7 linked regions of the Homo sapiens genome follow. The protein of the gene in region 4 purifies or fractionates together with the protein of the main gene of each other region. This does not show direct contact. Each region holds a gene or a part of one and is shown on either strand. Other genes may lie near its edges.

Region 1 (3,500 bases), on a different chromosome or scaffold from region 4:
ACCTGGGTAGCAGAGGTTGCAGTGGGCCAAGATTGCACCACTGCACTCCAGTCTGGGCAACAGAGTGAGACTCCATCTCAAGAAAAAAAAAGATTGTGTGCCAGGAATGACATTGGCCGTGTCTAGAGAGATGAACAGGGCAAACAATTCCTTCAACCAAGTTACTCACCTCTATTATACAGAGCCATAGCAAGAAATACTTGCTGTATCAAAAGTCAATGTGGGCTAGGTACGGTGGCTCATGCCTGTAATCCCAGCACTTTGGGAGGCCGAAGTGGGTGGATCACCTGAGGTCAGGAGTTCAAGACCAGCCTGCCCAACATGGTGAAACCCTGTCTACTAAAAATAAAACTAACAAATGCAAAAATTAGCCAGATGTGGTGGTGGGCGCCTATGATCCCAGCTACTCGGGAGGCTGAGGCAGAATCACTTGAACCTGGGAGGTGGAGGTTGTGGCGAGCCGAGATCACACCATTGCACTCTAGCCTGGGCGACAAGGGCAAAACTCTTTCTCAAGAAAAAACAAAAATGCTACCAGGAAGATAAGAGGGAATGTGGAGTAAGCAAGGCTGATCTGAAACTGATCACAGGCTAGGTGCGGTGGTTCACAGCTGTAATCCCAGCACTTTAGGAGACCGAGGTAGGTGGATCACTTGAGGTCAGGAGTTCTAGACCAACCTGGCTACCCTGTTGAAACCCCATCTGTACTAAAAACACAAAAGTTAGCCAGGCATAGTGGTGGGCACCTATAGTCCCAGCACCTGGGGAGGCTGTGGCAGGAAGACCCCTTGAACCCAGGAGGCAGAGATTGCAGTGAGCCAAGATGGGGCCACTGCACTCCAGCCTGCATGACAGAGTGAGACTCTATTTCAAAAACAAAAAAAACAGAAAAAACCTATCACAAAGTCAGCTCAGGCAAGTCACCTACCCAAAAGACTCAATTTTCTCTGTAAGTTGTTTATATTAAAGTTGTCTGAGCAATGTACCATAAATACATTTATGCCTGTCAATTTTTTTTTTTTTTTTTTAAGATGGAGTCTCGCACTGTTGCCAGGCTGGAGTGCAGTGGCACAATCTTGGCTCACTGCAACCTCCACCTCCCGGGTTCAAGCGATTCTCCTGCCTCAGCCTCCTGAGTAGCTGGGACTACAGGCGGGTGCCACCACACCCGGCTAATTTTTGTGTTTTTAGTAGAGTTGGGTTTCACCATGTTGGCCAGGATGGTCTCGATCTCTTGATCCACCCGCCTCAGCCTCCCAAAGTGCTGGGAGATTATAGGTGAGAGCCACCACACCTGGCCACCTGTCAACTTTTAAATAATTTAAAGAAGGCCGGGTACGGTGGCTCTCGCCTGTAATCCCAGCACTTCGGGAGACTTGGGGGTGGGTGGAGCAGATCTCTTGAGGTCAGGAGTTTGAGACCACCCTGAATGAGATGGTGAAACCTGTCTCTACTAAAAGTACAAAAAAAAATTAGCTGGGCGTGGTGGCATGCACCTGTAGTCCCAGCTACTCAGGAGGCTGAGACAGGACAATCACTTGAATCTGGGAGGCGGAGGTTGCAGTGAACAGGGATGGTGCCACTATACTCCAGCCTGGGTGACAAGAACAAGACTTCGTCTCAAAAAAAAAAAAAAAAATTAGCTGGGTGTGGTGGCAGGTGCCTATAATCCCAGCTACTCAGGAGGCTGAGTCAGGAGAATCAGGAGAATCGCTTGAACCTGGGAGGTGGAGGTTACAGTGAGCCGAGATCGCGCCATTGCATTCCAACCTGGCCAACAGAGAAACTGTCTCAAAACAAAAACAAAAACAAAAACTCTCTGCGCTGTGCTCCTAACTTTCTACAAACTGAGTTCTAATTCTCTGCAACGTTCGTTCTTCCCTCTATTCTTACGGAAGGGAGGTTGGCATTCTCCAGGAGACAGTGGGCACATTAAGAATAGTGGAGGAAAAGATTGGAGAGAGATGGGGTTCTTCAAAGGAACAGGAGATAGCAGCAAGAACGGGGGGCTTCCTCAGCTGACTCCAACATTGGAGGTCCTGACACCCACCTTGTGCTTCTGTTTTGAAGCGCTCCAGCATTTCGTCCACGTCTAGAGGTGGTCGTTCTTTCCGTGTTATCCCTGGAGAAAAAGGGCGGCATTACAGGCCTGTTGCTGTGCTGGCAGTGGGACTCCAAGATGGCTCAAGTTGGACCCCTGAGTCTCAGTAGTGAAGCCTAGATTAGGTACTAAAAAGGACGTTGATAAGGTACTGGATGTAAAAGTGAAAGTACATTAGGCCATGATCCCAGGTTTATGTGCCTTTCTGGTGAGAATTCCTAAGTAGTTCAGAACACATGGTGTGAAAGACACACACACACACACACACACACACACACACACACAAACTACTCACGCATAAGGCCACTGGAAAGGCTTTGAGGATTAACTGCCTAGTTTTTCTTTTTTTTTGAGATGTAGTTTTGCTCTTGTTGCCCAGGCTGGAATGCAATGGTGTGATGTCGGCTCACTGCAACCTCCGCCTCCTGGGTTCAAGTGATTCTCCTGCCTCGGCCTCCGGAGTAGCTGGGATTACAGGAATGTGCCACCATACCTGGCTAATTTTGTATTTTTAGTACAGACAGGGTTTCTCTACGTTGGTCAGGCTGGTCTCGAACTCCCAACCTCAGGTGATCTGCCTGCCAGGCCTAACCCCCTAGTTTCTGATGAGGTAGATAAATTTAAAATGAACTGGGAAAGAATGTAAGAACAAGGTGGAATCAGCCGGGCATGGTGGCTCATGCCTGTAACCCAACACTTTGGGAGGCCAAGGCAGGCGGATCATGAGGTCAGGAGATCGAGACCATCCCGGCCAACATGGTGAAGCCCCGTCTCTACTAAAACAAAAAATTAGCCGGGCATGGTGGTGTGTTACCTGTAAGTCCCAGCTACTTGCGAGGCTGAGGCAAGGGAATTGCTTGAACCCAGGAGGCGGAGATTGCAGTGAGCCAAGATCGCTCCACTGCACTTCAGCCTGGCAAAAGAGCAAGCGAGACTCCGTATCAAAAAAAAAAAAAAAAAGAGAGAGAACAAGGTGGAATCCTAATAACAATATCTGCAGCTTAACCCTGGATAATGAAGAGGTGAGTCCATGGAACTCCTGAAAAGATGCTGGGGAGGGAACTGGACACGGGCATGTGAAATTCAGGACAAAGGCTGATCTGAGAAGAGCCTTTAGAGTCTTCACCACCAGGTGAGGTGGCTCATGCCTGTAATCCCAGTACTTTGTGAGGCTGAGGCAGACAGTTCATTTGAGGTCAGCAGTTTGAGACCAGCCTGGCCAACATGGTGAAACCCTGTCTCTACTAAAAATACAAAAATTAGCCAGACGTGGTGGTAGGCGCCTGTAATCCCAGCTACTTGGGAGGCTAAGGCAGGAGAATCACTTGAACCTGGGAGGCGGAGGCTGCAGTGAGATTGTACCACTGCACTCCAGCCTGGGTGACAGAGCAAGACTCTG
Region 2 (3,500 bases), on a different chromosome or scaffold from region 4:
CTCTTTTCCTGACTAAATATCTCCACTTCCCATAATATTACTTCTAAATTAACAATTCAGGAGAGAAGTATAACATGCTTTGACATTATGTTTAAACCTTTGCAGAAAAAAAAAAAAAGTACGTATTTTAGGCAGCAAATTAAACTAGGTTAAAATGTAAGAATCAAACTTAGAAAGTATGAACTTGCTTACCTGCACAGCAATGTACAAGCCTGGAACATTGAAGGACTCAAACATTATTTCAGCAGTATATTCCCTGTTTTCTGGAGTATTCAATGGAGGTTCAGTCTATTGAAATAAATAACATTTTAAATAGATAATATCAGATTATTTTGATAACTTTCTTGACAATTTTTAAATGAGAAGTAATTTATTTCAAACATTTTATTTAAAATGCATTAAATTTACAAGTAGAAAGACAGACACAGAGATCAAAGGAAAACTATAGAGAATTCAAACATCCATACATATATGAAAACAGTATGGTAATTCACATTTTAAAAAAAAAATACCCTGAATGCCTATATCATACCACTTATACAGATTAAACATTAAAAAGAAATGAAGCAGGGAGAGAGAGGGTTGGAGGTAGGGAAAAGGTGGTCCAGTCAAATCATCCTTTAAATATGGTAATGACAAACCTCCAGAAAAAACATCAATGGTATTTGCCAGTGGGAGAGCCCTCATCTAAGTAATGCTTTTAGATGAATGTCCCCGAAGTATATAGGATTACAGTAAACAAGCCGAGATTCTACAGATCTAATGGTACAGCTTTCTGAAAAATGTTATATTAATTTACCTGTTAAGAGCATAGAATCAAGATGTTTGCAGAGCACTCTTCTGTTTATGTGACTGTATACATCACTTAGAAACCTCACAGGTTAAGTCTGGGACAGAACACACTCTAAAGAGGCAAGGAAGGACTCAGAGATCTGGCAGTCTTGGACTTCATATTTCACCTATGCCTCATGATCACTTAAACTGTTTCAATTTTTAAAGATTAACACTGGGTAAGACCTCTGATTCTTGTGAGTCTGACTGGCAATCTAATAGGTATCTCAAATACTTAAATGTAAAAGAAAAATTTTTAAATTTAAAAAAGACACAGAATTCTCTTTTTGACCTTAAGGTAGGAATAACTCCTTAAATTTCTGAAGTACAAATCACAAAGGGAAAAAGTGATAAAACTTGAATCCATTAAAAATTAAATATTTTTAAAATTATTATTTCAAAAGAAATATAAAGCAAAACAACTAAGTATACTGTTACCTTACATAAAACCTTTATAAGCTAAACTCCCTGTGGTGTTTAAACTTCTTTAGAAGAGTTCTGGAGCTATGTTTAAAAGTCTGGAGATAATTTACTGATGAATACATACAAAATTAAGTAAACTAAAAACCAAGGCAGTGAAATTATAAACTCCAAGAAAAAAAATCTACATAAAAGATAATCAGAGGACCCCACAAAGGAAAATATACAAATAGCTAATAATAACAATCGTACATGAAAGACTGCTCAACATAATTATCAGAAAATGAAAATTAAAATTAAAAGCAAATGAAAAATCGTACACACCCACCAGAACGGCTAAAATTTTAAAGACTGACAAGCTAGCAGCGCAGTGGCTCACATCTATAATCCCAGCACTTTGGGAGGCCGAGGTGGGCAGATTACTTGAGACTAGAAGTTCAAGACCAGCCTGGCCAACATGGCAAAATCCTGTCTCTACTAAAATTACAAAAGTTAGCCAGGTGTGGTGGTGCATGCCTGTAATCCCAGCTACTCAGGAGGCTGAGGCACAAGAATCCCTTAAACCTGGGAGGCGGGGAGGTTTCAGTGAGCCAAGATCACACCACTGCACTCCAGCCTGGGTGACAGAGCAAGACTGTCTCAAAAAAAAAGTATAAAAGATTGATAAGCCAAATCTTGAATAGAGCAAGCAGATTACTAATGCATCACTGGGGGGTGTGCAAAAAGGTTCACCATCTTGGGAAAAGTTCCCATGAGTTTCCCTAAAAAACCAATCAGGTACCTACCCTATGACGCTGCAATTCCATACTTACGTATTTAGACAAGAGAAATGAAAACATATGTCCACAAAAAGTCTTGTAGAAGAAGGTTCACAATGGTCAAATTATTTTATTATAACCAAAAACTAGAACTAAGCCAGGCATGGTGGCAGCACTTTGAGAGGCCATGGCGGGAGGATCACTTGGAGCCCAGGAGTTCAAGACCAGCCTGGGTGACAAAGTGAGACTCCATCTCTAAACCAGAACACATTACCCAGGTGTGGTGGCCCGGGCCTGTGTGTCCTAGCTACTCAGGAATCTGAGCTGGGAGAACTGTTTGAGCTGGGAGGTCAACACTGCAATGAGCCATGATTGATCCACTGCATTCCAGCCTGAGCAACAGAGCAAAACCCTGTCTTAAAAAAACAAAAACAAAAACAAAAAAAAAACAAAAATAGCCCAGGTATTCATCAACAGGAAAATGGATAAAGTGAGGCAAATTTATACAATGGAATACTACCCAGCAACAAAAAGCAACAAATCACCAGTATATGCAACATAATTCAATCTCCAGATTATGCTAAGTAAAAGTGTTTCACCAAAATGCACATATTGCATGATTCCATTATTTGACACTCAAACATGGGCAAAGCTAATCTCAGATGAAAAAGAAACAGTGGTTGTCACTAGGGCACGGGGGCAGAGATTAATTACAAAAGGGCATGAGAAAACTTTCCACGCTGATAGTAATTTCTCTATATCTTGGTAAGAGTTTAGGTTACACAGATGTATGTAACTGACAAAGATTGGACAAATCACATCATGCATCCTGCAGGTCAAATACAGCCCACCACCTGTTTTGGTAAAAAAAAAAAATTTATTGGAACACAGACATACCTATGAATTTAAGTATTGTCTATGGCTGCTAACATGCTACAACAGCACAGCTGAGTAGCTGTGACAGGGACCATTGTATAAAAAGTTCTCATTAAGTTTCCTCAGGGACTATAACCCCTGCAAAGCCAAAAATATTTGCTATCTGCTCCCTTAGAAAGTTTGCCAAACCCTGGTCAAAATCCACTGAATGGTGCAGACCGGTGATTTTATGATATGTAAATTTTATATGAAAAGAATAACCATACACAAATGATAGCTCTAGTTGATGAAATACGTGCTAAAGTATTTAGGGGTCAAATGACTCCCATTTGCAACTCACTTTGAAGTGATTTAAAAACTAAAATGAAGTGAAAGATGGATAGACGTCATGAAGCAATTATAGCCAAATGTTAAGGTTAATCATCGAATCTAGATTGTGGGTGTATGAGTGTCCATAGTATGGTTCTTTCAACTTTATAGTCCATCACAATCACCGAAAGACACAGAATATTGATTTAACCAAAAATTGTGATGTAACTACAATGCGAGGAGTGGGAAAGGATAGGTATTTTGTGTTGAGGGAGAGAAAAGGTAAAAAGGGAAATTCTCATTTTT
Region 3 (3,500 bases), on a different chromosome or scaffold from region 4:
CCCATTTCGGCCTCCCAAAGTGCTGGGATTACAGGAGTGAGCCACTGTGCCCAGCTAACATTTTTAAATGGTTGAAAAAAATCAAAAGAATATTTTGCGAAATGTGAAAATTATATGAAATCCAAATTTCAGAGTCCATAACTAAAAGTTAAAACACAGCTATACTCATTCTGTGGTTGTTTCTGTACTACAACAGCATAGTGACAGATATGGCAGAGTGCGCAAAACCTAAAATAGTATGTGGCCCTTTACATAAAAAGTTTGCCTCTGCTATAACAGTGTCCTTGGAGTCCTGACCATGGGCATGAAATATATGAGACCCGAAAATATGGAACTGACTGTAAGCTCTCTCCTCTGGGGAAGGGTGAGTCATAACCCCCTTTTGGATTCCTGATGTCTGTTAAATTCAGTGGGCATTCACTGAATGGCTGCCACCTCCATGACATGAGGCAAGAATGGCATGTAATACACCTGTATATTTGGGAGTTCTGGCTGATCACTTCTAAAGGGTCAGGGCTCACACCAAAACCAGTGCTTACTGGGTGACCATTTTCTATTCATTCATGCAACAAATGTCTACCTGGGCACCTTACCTTAGTCGGTTCAGGCTGTTATAACAAAAACACCACAGACTAAGTGGCTTAAACAACAGAAATTTACTCAGTTCTGAAGGCTGGAATGTCCAAAATCAAGGTGCTGGTCAATTTGGTTCCTGGCGGGGGCCCTCTTCCTGGTTTGCAAAGGAATGCCTTTTTGCTGTATCCTCATAGGTGGAAGGGGAGATCATCTCTCCAGGGTCTCTTTTTATAAAGGCACTAATCCCATTCGTGAAGGCTCCACCCTCATGAGTTAATTACCTCCCAAAGGCCCCACCTCTAAATATCATCACACTGGGAGCTGGCACTTCAACATACGAATTTTTCAGGAACACAAACACTAGTTTATAGCATGTCTCCTTTGTGCCAGATACTGTTGCAGGAGCTGAGGATACACACAGTCCTTAGGGAGCTTACCCTCTGGTTAGCAGGAAATAGGATGGAGACTCCCCTGCAATGAGGACTGTGTGAGGCAGTGGGAGAGGGAGACGGAATGCCACTGTGATATCACAAGCACAATACTGGACTTGCCTTGAAGGAACTTACTAATTGGAAAGCCATGAAAAGTTAAATTCCCATAACTTAAAGAGTTAAATAATGCTTCAAGACTGAGCAGATGCCCTAGGGCAGAACAGCTTAGAAGAACCAAACAGCAAAGGAGGCTGGTTCACCACATCTATTTTGCACTGAAAACAATATGATTACCCAAGCCGACAAATGTTTGTCATTAAGAGAAATTTCAACACCAGGGAATGTGCATTCCCACAAAAGTGGTTAAGAATAGGGGTACACAGCTATTCAGTTACGTGTGGCTCAGAAACCAGTACACATGTCTATTTAGCACCAAGCACCTACGGAGGGAGGAATTCATTTGCTGACGGTCTGATGACGCTCTCTTGCTCCAAAGTCTGCAGAGATCTGGAAGATCAAGGCTGTTTAAGCTTCACCCTCGGTCAGTCACATGCTCTCCTTCCCCTAAGTGCCTCAGATTCCAGTAAAGCTCTGTGAGAAGCCTCCAGCACCCCTACACACAGAGAGAGACGCACACAGGAAGCATCAGCCTCTGCTAGACCCTTGCAGCAGTTTCCAGACATGTCCAGCAAAAGGTACTAGGCATCCTGGTAAAGAACTGGGCAGTAAAATGTTCCCTTGTGATACCCACTATCCAAAAAGGACAGATATTAAATGCAATAGAAGGAAAGACTACTACTACGCCTTATCCGATCCCCAACAAAGTCAAAAAAAAGCAGACTTGTCAGAACAGACAATACAATTAGATACTACACATTTTAGACATTCACTATTCCTGGAGCCTCTACTTTCAGAGAGGGTCTGAGTCTAGCTTCATGATGTTGGCAAAATCACATCCCCTCTCTAGCCTCTATTACCTCATAAGGCACCAGATCAAATCCCTAAGTTTGGGAATAGAGGAGTTTCCCAAGAAATTCCTATATCAGCTTTCATTAAGACTTACATAGAAAAACATTTTGAAAAAGCCCAACAAAACCACAGCTTCTCCAGAGAGAGCTGAAAGACACTTTTAAATAAGAAAAACATATGATAATAGAATAAGAAAAGTGCTGATTTTTCTTTACTTTTTAACCCTCTGTGATAAGAAATGGTATTTGTAAAATTATATACCACTAGCTGAAGTCTGAGCAGGGCTAAATCCTAACTTAAAATCCTTAGAAATCAGGGTCTCCTCTATGGCTGGGCAGCCCTAAAGTGAAACATTAAGGCTTAAGGGAATCAGTTCTTGCATTTGAAAGACGAAAAGGAAGATAAATTGGTAATTTCCATACTTACACCATAAAGATTTTACTCCTACAGCTCAAAAGAAATAACTGTACAATGAAATTTAATTTTCTTAAAACACACGCCTGGCTGGGTGCGGTGGCTCATATCTGTAACCCCAGCACTTTGAGAGGCAGAGGCAGGTGGATCACGAGGTCAGGAGTTCGAGACCAGCCTGGCCAATATGGTGAAACCCCGTCTCTACTAAAAATACAAAAATTAGCTGGGAGCGGTGGCACGCGCCTATAGTCCCTCAGCTCGGAAGGCTGAGGCAGGAGAATTGCTTGAACCCGGGAGCCAGAGGTTGCAGTTAGCAGAGACTGTGCCACTGCACTCCAGCCTGGGCGACACAGCAAGACTCTGTTTCAAAAAAAAAAAGGGAGCAGGGTTTTAGAGTCGGGGTGTTTTTTGCTTGTTTGTTTGTTTGTTTGTTTGTTTTTAAGGTGGAGTCTCACTCTGTCGCTCAGGCTGGAGTGCAGTGGTGTGATCTCGGCTCACTGCAACCTCCGCCTCCCGGGTTCATGCAATTCTCCTGCCTCAGCCTCGCGAGCAGCTGGGACTACAGCGTGCGCCACCATGCCCAGCCAATTTTTGTATTTTTAGTAGAGATGGGGTTTCACCATATTGGCCAGGCTGGTCTCGAACTCCTGACCTCAAGTGATCCACTCGCCTCGGCCTCCCAAAGTGCTGGGATTACAGGCATGAGCCACCACGCCCGGCCTTCTCCTCCCTTCTTCCAGAAAGCCTTGCCTGATTTCCATTCCCATTGTTGTATACAGCCAACACTCGGTACTATCTTATTCTGTGACCAATTTAATTTTACATGTCAAAATATTCCTCCATTGTCAGTAACCCAAAGGAAAATGTATTTCCTTTCTTTAAAAAAAGAAATATTCTGAACCTACAAAAAGATGGATAGCATAATAGGACAAACACTGATATACCTATGACCCAGTCCAAGAAATAAAACACTGCAAAACAGGAGAAGCCCTGAGGCACCCATTCCCAATCACATCCTCCCTCTTCCCATCACAGGCAACCACTACCTGGAAACCAGAGCTCATCAGCCCCATAAAGCTCTTCCCCTCGCGAAAGAGCATACATCCTTAT
Region 4 (3,500 bases):
GTAATTTTTCTGCTTCTTGGTGCTAACAATTGTATTAACATTTGGCTTTATATTGTACATGACTTTTCTAACTACTGCCTAAAATATGGTTGATAATTTCTACAGAAAAAGTTGCCCTAGAATGAGTGTATTAAAATTCTCATTCATAAAAAGTATGTCTTAATTGCAATTCTAACAAAGCAGTAATTCTTGATCTCAAATAGTTTATAGAAAAGAAAAATACACACACACACACACACACACAACAAATCCAAGTGTTTATTTTTAAAATTCCAAATAAGGGTACAGAACAAATTTCACTTTTTATTTTCAATATATCATTTTATATTAAATCATTTATTATCTTTGCTACAACCAAATAGATGCTCTACTAATTCTTACTGTACCAAAAATTTAAAAAGTGGAATGCAGACTCCCCCCTTATCTGCAGTTTCACTTTCCAGTTTGTTATCTATGGTCAACTGTGGTCTGAAAATATTAACTGGAAAATTCCAGAAATAATTCATAAGATTTAAATGACATGCTGTTCTAAGTAGTGTGAAGAAATCTTGAGCCATTCTGCTCTGTCCTGCCTAGGGCGTGAATTATCCCTTTGTCCTGCACATGCTGTCTATGTTACCTGCCCCTTAGTCACTTAGGAGCTGTCTGGATTATTAGATTGACTGTGGTGGTGAAGTTCTGCATTAAAGTTGATTATAAGTCGGCTGCAGTGGCTTACGTCTGTAATCCCAGCACTTTGGGAGGCCGAGGCAGGTGGATCACCTGAAGTCAGGAGTTTGAGACCAGCCCGACCAACATGGAGAAACTCCATCTCTACTTAAAATACAAAATTAGCTGGGCGTGGTGGCGCATGCCTGTAATCCCAGCTACTTGGGAGGCTGAGGCAGGAGAATCACTTGAACCCGGGAGGCGGAGGTTGCGGTGAGCCAAGACTGCACCATTGCGCTCCAGCCTGGGCAAAAAGAGCGAAACTCCGTCTCAAAAAAAAAGAAAAAAAAAGTTGATTATACAAGGCAAACCTTCTGTAAAAGGAGTGATGGTAAATATTTTAGGCTCTGAGGGCCATAGGGTTTCCTACCTTTGCAGGCCACAGACAGAACTGAATGAATGGGTGGGTCTGTGTTCCACTGAAACTTTCTTTACAAAAACAGGCTGGGAGGTCCGATTTGGCCCATAGGAAGATAAGCCTGAATGATATCTACAAGCTGTTGTGATGTGAGGCAGGTGTAAAAATACCATTCGAAGGTTCTACTTCCTATTTATCTATATGTAGATTTATCATATTATATAAAGGCATTTACGTACTTATATTGCTTAAAGAATACATTTTCAAGTGACTATGGTAATGAATCATTCAAAGTGTGGTAGGCACTGAACAAAATAAATAACTTGTTTTCTTAGAAGAAATTCATACTTGGATAAAAATATCAAGAAAAAATGTCCCTTTTCTTCTATTACAAATGGGGAACATAAGAGGTTCTAGAAACAGGAGCCCAAGAAACTGAGAGTTTTTTTTTTTTTTTTTTTTTTTTTTGAGACAGAGTCTCACTCTGTTACCCAGGCTGGAGTGCAGTGGCACGATCTCAGCTTACTGCAACCTCTGCCCCCCATGTTCAAGTGATTTTCCCACCTCAGCCTCCCAAGTAGCTGGGACTACAGGGGCCCGCGCCCACACACAACTAATTTTTGTATTTTTAGGAGAGATGGAGTTTCACCATCTTGGCCCAGCTGGTTTTTAGATCCTGACCTCAAGCAATCCACCCGCCTTGGCCTCCCAAAGTGCTGGGATTACAGGCGTCGGCCTACCTCTTCTTTCTAAAATAATTTCACTGTATATATCTTACCACAAGACCACCCACATGGCAGAAACTAGATTTTTCTTCCTCCTCATAAATGTTAATTTTTCATTGGTGTTTTAAAAGGCAAAGAATTCTATTTGTTATCCTCAAAAATTTTAAAGCTGGAAGTCATTTGGTATTAAAAAAGAGGTATATTGGCCGGGCGCAGTGGGTCACGCCTGTAATCCCAACACTTTGGGAGGCCGAGGTGCGTGGATCAGCAGGTCAGGAGATTGAGACCATCCTGGCTAACACAGTGAAACCCCGTCTCTACTAAAAATACAAAAAAATTAGCCAGGTGTGGTGGCATGCGCCTGTAGTCCCAGCTACTCAGGAGGCTGAGGCAGGAGAATGGCGTCAATCTGGCAGGTGGAGCTTGCAGTGAGCCGAAGATCGTGTCACTGCACTCCAGCCTGGGCGACTGAGTCTTGACAGAGTGAGACTCCATCTCAAAAAAACAAAAACAAAACAAAAAAAAATTGGTTGAAGAAGTTTTCTACTTGTAATAAATTCATATACATCTAGTTAGTGTATATCAACTGAGAGCCCCAACCCTTTCTCAGTAAGAGATATATTCATCCTGAAAGACAAAGGCATAACTCAGTGTATCTAGGGTACATTCAGGGAGTAGAAACCAGTGCAATGCAAGTACAATTCTCAGGAAAAGATTTAGAATGGATTTTAAATTGGAAACATCAATTATTCTTTGATTTGAAAGTAGATTGGTATTGGGGAGATGTTGGTCACAGGATACAAAATTTCAGTTACATAGGAGGAGTAAGTTCAAGAGATCTATTGTACAACATCTATTATTTTAGTTAATAACAAATGTATTCTTGAAAATTGCTAAGAGAGTAGACTTTAAGTGTTCTTACCACACAAAATAAGTGGGTAATACATGTTAATTAGCTCCATTTAGCCATTCTACAATGTATACACATTTCAAAACAACATGTTGTACATAATATATATATATATATATATATATATATATGCAATTATTTGCCAATTAAAAAGATAAATAGGCTGGGTGTGGTGGTTCACACCTGTAATCCCAGCACATTGGGAGGTGAATTGCCTGAACCCAGGAGTTCAAGACCGGCCTGGGCAACATGGCAAAATCCTGACTCTACAAAATATACAAAAATTAGCCGGGCACGATGGTGTGTGCCTATAATCCCAGCTACTTGGGAGGAAAGGTGGGAGGATTGCTTGGGCCTTGGAGCTCGAGGCTACAGTGAGACAGTGCCACTGCACACTAGCCTGGGTGACAAAGCAAGACCCTGTCTCAAAAATAAATGAATAAATAAAAAAGGCTGATACAGACTAAAATATTTATTTTTGCATTTCTATTTAGTTTGTATAGTATCAAACAACAAATAATTTCAACTAACAACAAATAATTTACAGTACAGATAATGTGCTGCTTCCTATACGCATGGCTTAATTTTTTAAAGGTTCAGACAATGAGTTATACCTGTTTCTTCCACTTCCTTTAAATGGCAAGGAAGCTGAAAGTAGAACAGAACATTTGTTTTTATTTACCAACAACTACACTTACCTTATAAACAGAACTGCCACCAACTATCCAGACCATGTCTACTTTATTTGCTAATTCTGGTTGTTCAGTAAGTTTTAAGGCATCATCTAGACTTCTGGAAA
Region 5 (3,500 bases), on a different chromosome or scaffold from region 4:
CTGAAAGACTGTCAGATGTGTGCCAAATTTTTGTAAAGTATGGTTCCAAAATTCTAGATCCTCACAATACATATATGTAGATACCAATTCATCTTTATTGTGCTTCTAACTTACTTTAAGAGCCTAAAATCACAGTAAGTTGTTTTAATGACAGCTATACAGAATGAGCCAATCAATGAATACTGGGACAATTTGAACAGACTGCCTCTAAATCCCTACAAATAAGACATACAGCTTTCCCTATGAATCTTGACTTTTAATTAGCATCTATAGCAGGCAACTTGTAAAATGTGAATCAATTATTTCTAATGGCCTTTAGATATCATTCTGAAACTGCCAAAATGAAGCTAATATCAAAAAAGTATTTTTCATATATCAAAATTAGAAATCTTTATCCTGATTTAAGATGTCTCTGTCTGATATGACTACAACCGGCTTTACACATTTTTATCTTTAATCACTGCAAATTTAATGGGATCAGCTAGACATTTTTGTAGCCTACACCACATGGTACTGCTTTGGAAGTTTTATAACCTGGAATTACTAAGTTTTTCATAGGAAAAAAAAGTCCATAAAGATGCTCTTTAGAAATATCTAAGTATTTTACTTTATTTATTTATTTTTTTTTTTGAGACAGAGTCTTGCTCTGTCGCCCACGCTGGAGTGCAGTGGCATATCTTGGCTCACTGCAAGCTCAGCCTCCCGGGTTCACGCCATTCTCCTGCCTCAGCCTCCCGAGTAGCTGGGACTACAGGCGCCCGCCACCACGCCCAGCTAATTTTTTCTATTTTTAGTAGAGACGGGGTTTCACCGTGTTAGCCAGGATGGTCTCGATCTCCTGACCTCGTGATCTGCCCGCCTCGGCCTCCCCAAGTGCTGGGATTACAAGCGTGAGCCACTGCACCCGGCAGAAATATCTAAGTATTTTAAGATAAAATTCAGTTTAACTTAAAATGCTTAGTTTAGCACAGTCAATTTTATGTTAAAAATCTGCAAATTCTGATATTTGGGAATCAGAGTCCCTGGGTCTAACAAAGCACCAGGCTGAGTGGCAGGAGAAGGAGCACAGCACTTGGAGCTGGCACTGGCTGAAAAGCCAGCATCTTTGGAAAGTTCTCATTAACAAATTTATAATTAACACATGTAACTTAAAGCGAAAAGAAGAATCACTAAAAGCCATTTCCTCAGATTAAAAAAAGACAAAGCTCCTTGAATAGAGTCCTCAGATATTCAATATTTTCTTTAAACAGCAATAAAAGACTTTTAAGGGGCTTCATGTTTCAACAAAAGTGTCCACTTTACAAAACCTGAAATACAATAGGAGGGTGGCAATTAAAATAATTCCCAAGAAAGGATTATCTTTAATACGCTGTTAAATTCAATAAGATCTGTGCCTTCCTATTATCAAATCAATAAATACTGATATTTTTCACAATCAGCTAATAACAAAAGGAAAATAAGAAGACATTTACCTCTTCTAAGCTAGGGAGCGAAGAAGAAGATACTGTTCGAGATGACAATGGGTGAAATGGCTCTTGACCAATAGCATGTTGATGATTCTGTATTTGTACAAAAGGGTTCTGCGGTGGCCTGTGAGGCAATGGAGGTAGGCCATAGGGAAAACCTGGCCCCATTAGGTGATTCTGTTGCAAGTTAGCAAAAGTCCATGCTCCATCAGGTGCCAGGTATTTCAAGGGAGGAGGGGCAAGGTGTTCAGATGGCAACGAGAAAGGTGAGTTGAATATCTGGGGTGGGAGGCGCTGTGGAAATGCTGGGTTGCTGGCTACTTCAATGTCTCTGCTGTTATCATTAAAGTTAGAAAAGTGGCTACTGTGGTCTGTACTGGATGGGGGAGATGGGACTGCTGGTGGGCTTCTACTCTGTACTTGTCTATATTGCAAAAGTCTTGATTGAGGTGGTGGCATTTCAGCTAGTTCCCGTGTTTCACTTTGATCACGATGAGACAGTTCTCTGATTAAGTCTTGAAACCTACATGAAAACAATAAAATATGAGGAGAAAACAAAAGGCTCCATCACATTAAGGAAAGCTTAGTCAACTACACATGTATTTTCAACAAACAAAATCATAGTACTAATAACTAGAACTGGCATTAATTCATCTCAGATGTAAGCATTAACACTCAATAGATGCTGAGGTGAAGAAATTAAATATGCTCAATTACCTGATTTCTTTCTGTTCCCATTGTATTAAAAACATCTGTCCTTGTCTCTATACAGCTTTGACAACTGGAAGTTATAAAAGGTCACCATGATGGTGGACCTTATTCAGAAGGGATTAGGAAACACTTCAGAGCATTCATGTGACACTGGCCACAAAAACAAGCTTAGAGTTAGGACCAAATACTCATATGTAGCTGGAATTATAGGAATGTAGAATTCTGTGCCACCATAAAAATAATTAATGATATAATTTTTAGCTTTTAACCACGAATTTACTCCTGTCTTTATTCATTCTTTGCAAGTATTACTACTAAATAAAAAAAGCTGCTCACAGTGATGGTATGTTTCTCTCGCAGAAAAGACCACAAAGTAAGGGAACAAGTTAATTTCCAACCCATAGTAGATCATCCATGCCTAAATTTGTAGAAGAGTTACTTCTAAATGAGTTTTCTGTATTTTAGAGTCAACAAGAGAACTGTGTAGCGTGTGCTTGGAAGGCCAGCATCCAATTTCTCTGAGGCAATATTCCAGCTTGAAGCTAAAAGGACTACAGTCAAAAAAGAGAACAGTGAGGGGGTCGCATTCCAGGGGCTATTTTCAGTCCGCTGGAATACCTTGAGTATGTGGTCTCCACTTCATCTTCGGCACTGCTGGTGAGCTTCCAGTCTGCCCTCACTGGCGGCTGATGTAATCCCAGGGGCGGCTGAGGAAGATGCTGGAGGTGAGGATGGTGATGGTGTGGGTATGGAGCGCTGCCCTGACTGAGAAAGGCATGATGCTCGCTCCACTGCTGGAACCGTGCCTGCTGCTGCCTTAATGTTTCCAGAGCGACACTCCCATGTATACGATCTGCAAAAATATTTGTGAAAAATTTTTTATGAATTTGGGGTTTCAAGTTCATTATTTAAAGTTTTTTACTAACATATTTTCTCCACAAAGACAAAGGACGTAGCTACAAATTTGGTTTTGGTAAGAAGTAAATGTTTTCTAAATTTGCCAGAAATCAGTTATGGTGATGATGATGACAACTCTTCCTCACTTACATAATGATGATCCTGACATCCACTGGATACTATCATACAGCATTTAGAACTAGTTTCTGATTATCACACTAAATGGGGGGGTTTTGCTAGCATTATTTGAAGAAACAATTCAATCTTAACCCAAAATGATATTATACAGTCCAAGTCATGTTAAGTAATCTCTGAATTTTCACATCTGGCAGTAATAGAACTTACCTAAAGCCTCCCCTATAGGTAATCCCGAGGGGTTCTCATCAATGAAGCTATTCAGATGTGAAGGAAGAATGGGGCCGGGTT
Region 6 (3,500 bases), on a different chromosome or scaffold from region 4:
TAGATGCTAAGCCTCGGTGGTGACTTTGTACCCTCTCCCACCCCAATCTCCTGCAAGTTATCCATTAGTTTTAGGAGTCTGAATTTCTCTATGGTGGTCCCCAGTCCAGAATGGGCTAAATGAGGCTGTGGCTGTCTTCTGGACACATTTTCTGCCTTGGTCTCACTTCTTTTCTCGGCTGCCCATCTTCCCCCACCCCCAGCTCCTCTGCCCAGCCCCATCTCACTGAGTCTCCGTGCGGAAGAGGAACTCGGCCTGGGCGCCCTGAGTGTTCTGCCGCAGAAAGAGTCGGAACAGGTTTTTGTGAGGTCCATGTAGCTTCATTTCACACTTTTCCCCCCGAATGGAGGAGAAGGGAGCATGGTCAAATACCAGGAATCGGCTACCCCTGCAAAATACAAATCTTTTCAACCTGATTCTAGAGTTTCCATACTTCACCTACCCTCATAACCTTGGGTTCGAAATCCCTACATCTACAGCCTGCAAATTCCCACAAAAACCATAAGATGGTCCTAACTTGCTCCCAAGATGGTAGCTCCAGGGTCCTCAGGGATTTGTCCTAGTCTGGCAAACCACACACCTAGTGCAGTGGATACATTACCACTTTAAAGAGGTGAAGAGATGGAATTTATATACATTTCCCAAGAACCTTAAGACCAGAGACTTAAGCTCTGGAATTAGCTAAGTATCTCTAGAATAGCAGGTTGAGGCCAGTCCAAAGAAGCCACAAATAGACTCATGTGAGAATGTGATAAGCTAATTTGCTACATTTTGCTCTGTGTCTATACCATATTACATGTCCTGCTATGTGGTCTCATGATACAGTTTGATGGGATCCCCTTTTTGCTTTGGGCTTGTTTTTCTCTTCTCTAGGCTATGACCTGGGCTCTATGGGTTAAGCCATTGAGAAGGGCTCTTCTAGGAACATGACCCTTCTCTCTCCCTTTCAGACCCCCCTCTTTCCTCATCCCCTTCCCCTCTTGTGCCCTGGCCTGCCACTCCAGTCACTGACTCTCGGGGCCGAGACAGCAGCAGACAGTCATTGAAGAGGTGCAGGTGGACTGGACGCGTGTTCAGCTTCCTTCGTAGCCCTGGGGAAGCACTGAACTCCAAGGCTGTCAGCTCCCCACTTTTCACCAGCCAGCGTGACTGAGAAATGAGCGGGAATATCTACAGGGCAGAGGAAGAGAGAGAAGGCAGTGTCACAGATGGGAGAAGCATGAGGTTTGCTCCCAGTCCCACCCTCCTCCCCATGCCACTTCCATGCAAGTTCCACTTGAACAAGCATCTCTTCCACATCTGCCTTCTGGCTCATAACCCATCACTTAGATTCTCTTTCTCTCTGAACCCTCTAACTACCACTGTCCACTGGTGTGTGGCTCCCATGGTTGTATGCTCAGGTAAATAGAAGATGCCTATGGTCCAACTCAGGATAGTGAGTGTGTGGGACAGCTCTGCCCTAGAAGCCTGAACTGAAGGAGGGATGGAAGAGTCCAATCAGGGTATGTGATGGAACAAGTCAGTGAACACTATATGTGTCTTAGAGGTTAAAATAAAATATTAGAGGCAGGTCTGGTATCAATTCCATTTTTTATACCAGAGATATGTGAGCAGCTGGAATCAAACATGGGGGTGAGAAGAACTAGGTGGGGCGTCTTGGAGCTGGAATTTGGTTAAAGATGAGGGTGTGGTCTATGCTTAGTATGTGAATAAGGGATTTTCCTTCTTTTTCAGGAGTGTAAAGATAGTATGTGTTCTAAGCACGAGCGTGGTGGCTCACGCCTATAATCCCAGCACTTTGGAAGGCAGAGGTGGGTGGATCACTTGAGGCTACGAGTTGGAGATCAGCTTGGCCAACATGGTGAAACCCCATCTCTACTAAAAATACTAAAATTAGCCAGACATGGTGGTGCAGACCTGGAATCCCAGCTACTCGGGAGGCCAAGGCATGAGAATCGCTTGAACCTGGGAGGTGGAGGTTGCAGTGAGCCAAGATCGCACCACTGCACTCTAGCCTGGGGCGACAGAGTGAGACTCTGTCAAAAAAAAAAAAAAGATAGTATCTGTTCTAAGTTGGAATTTGAATGTGGAATGTCTATTTTAGATTTGTATTTCAATGAGGGATGCTGGCTCTAAATTTGGATCCAATCTTATGTGGGTTTGATTAGACTAGAAAGAGATTTGATAAAGTAATAAATGAATCAAGCACCAAAACATTCTTTTATAAAGGCTCATCCTGAAAAGTTCTCTCTCATTTGCCCATTTCTCAAATGCACCCCCCTTGTCCTCAGGTAACCACTGTTCCTTTTTTTCTTGTTCTCCTTCCAGAGTTTCCTTATGCACACACAAGCAGACACCTGTATAGATTTGTATCCTCCCACTTTTATACCAAAGGTGATATAATATACACACAATTCTTTACCTTCATCATTTCACTTAGCAGTATGTCTTGGAGACCCAAGTAGGCCTCCCAGAAATAGGACAGAATAGAAGGTGGGCAGAAATGAGGGGAGGGGCTGGGGATAATGTGAGCAAGGTGGTTCCAGGTTAGGGGGTGATCTGCAGGACATGTTAAGGGAGTTCATGGGCAGGGATGGGGTGCATGGGACCGACTCACTTTGCACTCAAACTCAATCTTCTGGCTCAGGTAGATTAGTTCCTCTGTCCGTCGCATACTCTGGACATTGTTATTGCAGTCCCGGATCAGCTAGGGGTGCAGAGAGTGAGGAAAGGGGAAGGGCACTGTGTTAGAGGCTTTGACCTTTGAGTCCCTTGCAAGCAATCTGGAAATAGGTTATGACAGCCTCAGTCATTTTTCCCAGGCTGGAATTGGGCAGGCAGTATCAAGCACAAGTCCTAGGCAACTTTGTATGACTTGGCAGAACATTCCTGAACTGAGTAAAAGTGAGACTGAATGGGGGGGTGATGGTGGAGAGGGCACAGTCCCTTGATGTGGAGTGTGCTCGGCGTGGGAGAGGTGGCCGTGGGGTGTGTATGTTTGGAAGTTTGGCGGATGCAGGGAGGTGGCTGAGCTCTCCCAACAGGGTCCCACCTCCCATGCTCCCTGGAGTCATGGGCCTAGGTGGGAAAGACCTCTCTGAGAAGAACACACAGAGGGTCAGAGTGGAGGTGGTGGCTGCCTACCTGCTCCAGGGCGTGGTGTGCCTTCGTGGCCTCTGCCTCCTCCGAGGAGCCAGGCTGTGTTCTCTTCAGAATGTTCTATTGAACAGACAGTAGGCAGGAGTGAGATGGGAGGAAGAAATGGGAAACAGGAAGAAATGATTGGGGGCTGGTGAATGGAGAAGCCCAGGGACCACATTTTAGCAGCAAATATTTCCAAGCAAGCAGGCAGTGGGCAGCAGGGAGACAGGATGTGGACACCTGGCAGAAGAATGGTTGGTCCTTTGTTGTGGGTCTTCCTGAGGGCATCCCTTTGAGTTAAGGGGAGAGGATCAAGGTAGCATCTGCCCTACCTGGAGCAGCAGTTTGAGGCGGGTGAT
Region 7 (3,500 bases), on a different chromosome or scaffold from region 4:
GGGTACAGTGGCTCATACCTGTAATCCAGGCACTTTGGGTGGCTGAGGAGGGCAGATCACCAGAGGTCAGGAGTTCACAACCAGCCTGGCCAACATGGTGAAGCCCCGTCTCTATTAAAAATACGAAAATATTAGCCGGATGTGGTGGTGCGCACCTGTAATCCCAGCTACTCAGGAGGCTAAGGCAGGAGAATCGCTTGAACCCAGGAGCCAGATGTTGCAGTGAGCCAAGACCATGCCATTGCACTCCAACCTGGGCAACAAGAACGAAACTCCGTCTCAAAAAAAAAGCCTCAGCTCAAGAAGCCCCTCCATAGACCTCCCTGCCCTCTTTCCCACCAGGACACGTGAATCCTTTGCTCTGAGAGTCTGGATATACTGGAAGGATGTTCTAACGTAGGAAACTGTTTGTTAGAATATACACGTAACGTGTACTGCACATGGTTCACTTTAATAAATTGCCCAAGATGACCAAGGGGGCTTTCAGCTAAAACTCAAGTATAAATTAGGGATTGCGTGAGCATCCACGTGACAATTTTTCATAACACTGTCAAGGCACAGACCCAGAGTATGTAGCCTCCATGAGAACAATGGCCATTACTCTATTGATCTTTGATGCATTTCCTGTACCTGACAGCTGATCTGAATACTGTGGCTTCCTGCTACCACTTCTCAAGTTTGAGTAGATAAAAACTGAAGGATGGAGCAGTTTCTTAAACAGCTTGGGACTTTAGGTCCATCTGTCTCTGACCCCAGCAGTAGCTGTCACCTGATGTCACCCTAACAGGCTCCATCCTCTGTCCTTCGTGTCCCACTTTTAATCTCTCGTTCTGTGTAAGCAGAAGTGGGGAGAAAAAAAATCCACAAGATGCTTTTAAAGAAACCAAGAAATGTGACATTTTTCAGTTCTGGGTGGTGAATACATAATGTCTGTCTAGATAGGGACCACAATCCCTACCTAAAATGCTTAGGGCCAGATATGTTTTGGAATTCAGATTCTTTTTAATTCTGGGAAGGTAGTCAAGTACCCATACTACATATTTTGTAAAACCCCCCAGCAGGGTCAGCACCCCGTAATCAATTCTGTTAATGAATATTCAGAATGAGATCCTGTCATTTGCGGCCACATGGTTGAACCTGGAGGACACGTTAAGTGAAATGAGCCAGGCGCAGAAAGACAAATACCATATAATCTCATTCACGTGGAATCTAGACAAGTTGATCTCATAGAGGTTGAGAGTAGAATGCTAGATACCAGAGGCTGGGGGTGGTGGAAGGGGAGGTGAGTCTGGGGAGAGGTTGCTCAACAGGTACAAAGTTAGGAGAAATAAGCTCTGGTGTTCTATTGCACAGTAAGGTTACTATAGCTAATGATAATGTATATTTCAAGATGGCTAGAAGCCAAGGATTCTGAATGATATCTCTGCAAAGAAATGACAAGTTTATAGCCTGGGCAACACAGGGAGACTGTCTCTACTAAAATAAAATTAACTGGGCATGGTCACGCATGCCTCTGGTCCCAGCTACTCAGGAGGCCGAGACAGGAGGATTGCTTGAGCCTGGGAGGTGGAGGCTGCAGTGAGCCAAGATTGTGCCCCTACAATCCAGCCTGGGTGACAAAGCTAGACCCTATCTCAAAATTATCGCACCGTACCCCATAGATATGAACAAGTATGTGTCAGTTATAAACTAAAACTTAAAGTATCTCACATAATTGCAAATAGGAAAGTTCTGATGTTTTTGTGTCATTCATGTTGGAGATGTAGTCATCCACCCATGATGTGAGCAACCTCTTGGCTGAATCAGATTGCAATCAAGCATTTAAAAAAAAATAAGGCCAGGTGCCGTGGCTCATGCTTGTAATCCTGGCACTTTGGAAGGTCAAGGCGGGATGGAACACCTGAGGTTAGGAGTTGGAGACCAGCCTGGTCAACATGGTGAAACCCCGTCTCTACAAAAAATACAAACAGTTAGCCAGGTGTGGTGGTGCGTGCTACTTGTGAGGCTGAGGCAGGAGAATCGCTTGAAGGCAGAGGTTGCAGTGAGCTGAGATCGTGCTGCTGCACTCTAGCCTGGGTGACAGAGCTAGACCCTGTCTTAAAAAATAATAAAAATGAAAAATACATACACATGACTATTCACACCAAAAGGATAAGTTACAATTATAAATAGTCTCACATCACCTTCATTCAGGTTTTGGCAAAAGTGTTTTTAGAGCTTTTTGGATTTTGGAAAAAGGGATTACAGATCAGTATTATCCCTTGTACACTTACTTAAATTCTGTAAATCACTCTCCCTCCAAAAAAGTTGTAAGCTGTTTTTAAAGTAATTCCCTAAATAGTCATGAGGTAAAACTGTCATGGGGAGAAGAAAGCAAATGAAATCCCACAGGTTTTTAATTTCCACAAGACAAATTCATGGAAACTGGAAGAGGTGCTGGGTGCGGTGGCTCACACCTATAATCCCAGCATTTTAGGAGGTCCAGGCAGGAGGACGGCTTGAGCCTAGAAGTTGGAGACCAGCCTGGACAACATGGCAAGACGTAATATCTATAAAATTATTAAAAAATTAGCTGGGCATGATGGCATACCTGTAGTCCCAGCTAGGACAGGAGGATCCCTTGAACCCAGGAGTAATAAGCTATGATTGTGCCACTGCACTCCAGCCTGGATAACAGAGCAAGACTGCCACAAAAAAAAAAAAAAAAAAAAAAAAAAAAAATTTGAAAAGAGGGCAGCTTATTTTGTGGCATACTGGGAACAGGCTAAGAAGGAACAGGATTCCGTGAGGCAGGACTTCCTGCCTGTAAGTGCTGTAAGATATGGCAAGAGCTTGCATGATAAGCAACGGTGTCTCCTCTGGAATTTGTCAAAACAAAAAGAGGTTTTGTTTCAGTAATGATCTTCACTCTCTAGAGAAGGTTAAGGTTATTTTTCAGGTTATTTTTCCCCTTAATCAAAGATACTTTTTGCTTTTTTTTCCTGGCCTAGTCCAGATTCGGGTGCAGCCAAAACTACTATTTTTTTTTTCCAGTTACAGTCCTCTGCTGCTTAAAATTCTTACCTCCATTGTCAATCAGCCAGCGGTTCTGGCTGCCCATGGGGTCTTTTTTCTTAATCACACCCACCAGGTCACCTTCCAAAAGTGAGACATCCAAGTCTTGAGCAGCATTGAAGTTCCGTTCTGCCTGGAAGAGTTTTTCAGGGGGATACCTGGCCAGGAGGGAGGCCCGGAGTTCTTCTGACTGTAGCATGTAACTTGGCTGAAAGGTAAGACGTTAACAAAAATCTCTCAGTGGCCACTACCCCAGCAGCCATATTTCATCCCAACATGTGGCCAGTCTCAGAAATGAGGCAGGGACAGTCAGTCACTGCCCATCTCACTCCCATCAGATGTTTTTGTGATGAAGCCAGCCCATGTGGCTAGGTAAAAATCAAGAGCCCTTAGGCAATGTTTGATGCCTTTATAGTTAAGAAAATTTAACACACACCTATTCTTAC

What was found.
Region 1: the proteins of DHFR (region 4) and NLRP2 purify together in Homo sapiens (affinity purification with mass spectrometry; one large-scale study listed by BioGRID and IntAct). This does not show direct contact.
Region 2: the proteins of DHFR (region 4) and ACTR3 fractionate together in Homo sapiens (co-fractionation; one large-scale study listed by BioGRID). This does not show direct contact.
Region 3: the proteins of DHFR (region 4) and TBC1D2B purify together in Homo sapiens (affinity purification with mass spectrometry; one large-scale study listed by BioGRID and IntAct). This does not show direct contact.
Region 5: the proteins of DHFR (region 4) and HELZ purify together in Homo sapiens (affinity purification with mass spectrometry; one large-scale study listed by BioGRID and IntAct). This does not show direct contact.
Region 6: the proteins of DHFR (region 4) and ARHGEF5 purify together in Homo sapiens (affinity purification with mass spectrometry; one large-scale study listed by BioGRID and IntAct). This does not show direct contact.
Region 7: the proteins of DHFR (region 4) and DNMBP purify together in Homo sapiens (affinity purification with mass spectrometry; one large-scale study listed by BioGRID and IntAct). This does not show direct contact.

What each region holds. Positions count from the first base shown.
Region 1 is NC_000019.10:54,976,374-54,979,873, reverse strand, and holds part of NLRP2 (NACHT, LRR and PYD domains-containing protein 2), read right to left. Parts: intron 2,123-3,500; coding exon 2,051-2,122; intron 1-2,050. UniProt on the Homo sapiens protein: Suppresses TNF- and CD40-induced NFKB1 activity at the level of the IKK complex, by inhibiting NFKBIA degradation induced by TNF. When associated with PYCARD, activates CASP1, leading to the secretion of mature pro-inflammatory cytokine IL1B.
Region 2 is NC_000002.12:113,928,089-113,931,588, reverse strand, and holds part of ACTR3 (actin-related protein 3), read right to left. Parts: intron 289-3,500; coding exon 193-288; intron 1-192. UniProt on the Homo sapiens protein: ATP-binding component of the Arp2/3 complex, a multiprotein complex that mediates actin polymerization upon stimulation by nucleation-promoting factor (NPF).
Region 3 is NC_000015.10:78,071,212-78,074,711, forward strand, and holds part of TBC1D2B (TBC1 domain family member 2B), read right to left. Parts: intron 1-3,500. UniProt on the Homo sapiens protein: GTPase-activating protein that plays a role in the early steps of endocytosis.
Region 4 is NC_000005.10:80,634,484-80,637,983, forward strand, and holds part of DHFR (dihydrofolate reductase), read right to left. Parts: coding exon 3,400-3,500; intron 1-3,399.
Region 5 is NC_000017.11:67,105,697-67,109,196, forward strand, and holds part of HELZ (probable helicase with zinc finger domain), read right to left. Parts: coding exon 3,420-3,500; intron 3,031-3,419; coding exon 2,796-3,030; intron 1,990-2,795; coding exon 1,473-1,989; intron 1-1,472. UniProt on the Homo sapiens protein: May act as a helicase that plays a role in RNA metabolism in multiple tissues and organs within the developing embryo.
Region 6 is NC_000007.14:144,372,402-144,375,901, reverse strand, and holds part of ARHGEF5 (rho guanine nucleotide exchange factor 5), read right to left. Parts: coding exon 3,474-3,500; intron 3,220-3,473; coding exon 3,145-3,219; intron 2,708-3,144; coding exon 2,618-2,707; intron 1,171-2,617; coding exon 1,013-1,170; intron 389-1,012; coding exon 227-388; intron 1-226. UniProt on the Homo sapiens protein: Guanine nucleotide exchange factor which activates Rho GTPases. Strongly activates RHOA. Also strongly activates RHOB, weakly activates RHOC and RHOG and shows no effect on RHOD, RHOV, RHOQ or RAC1.
Region 7 is NC_000010.11:99,880,948-99,884,447, forward strand, and holds part of DNMBP (dynamin-binding protein), read right to left. Parts: intron 3,263-3,500; coding exon 3,064-3,262; intron 254-3,063; exon of another isoform or gene 156-253; intron 1-155. UniProt on the Homo sapiens protein: Plays a critical role as a guanine nucleotide exchange factor (GEF) for CDC42 in several intracellular processes associated with the actin and microtubule cytoskeleton.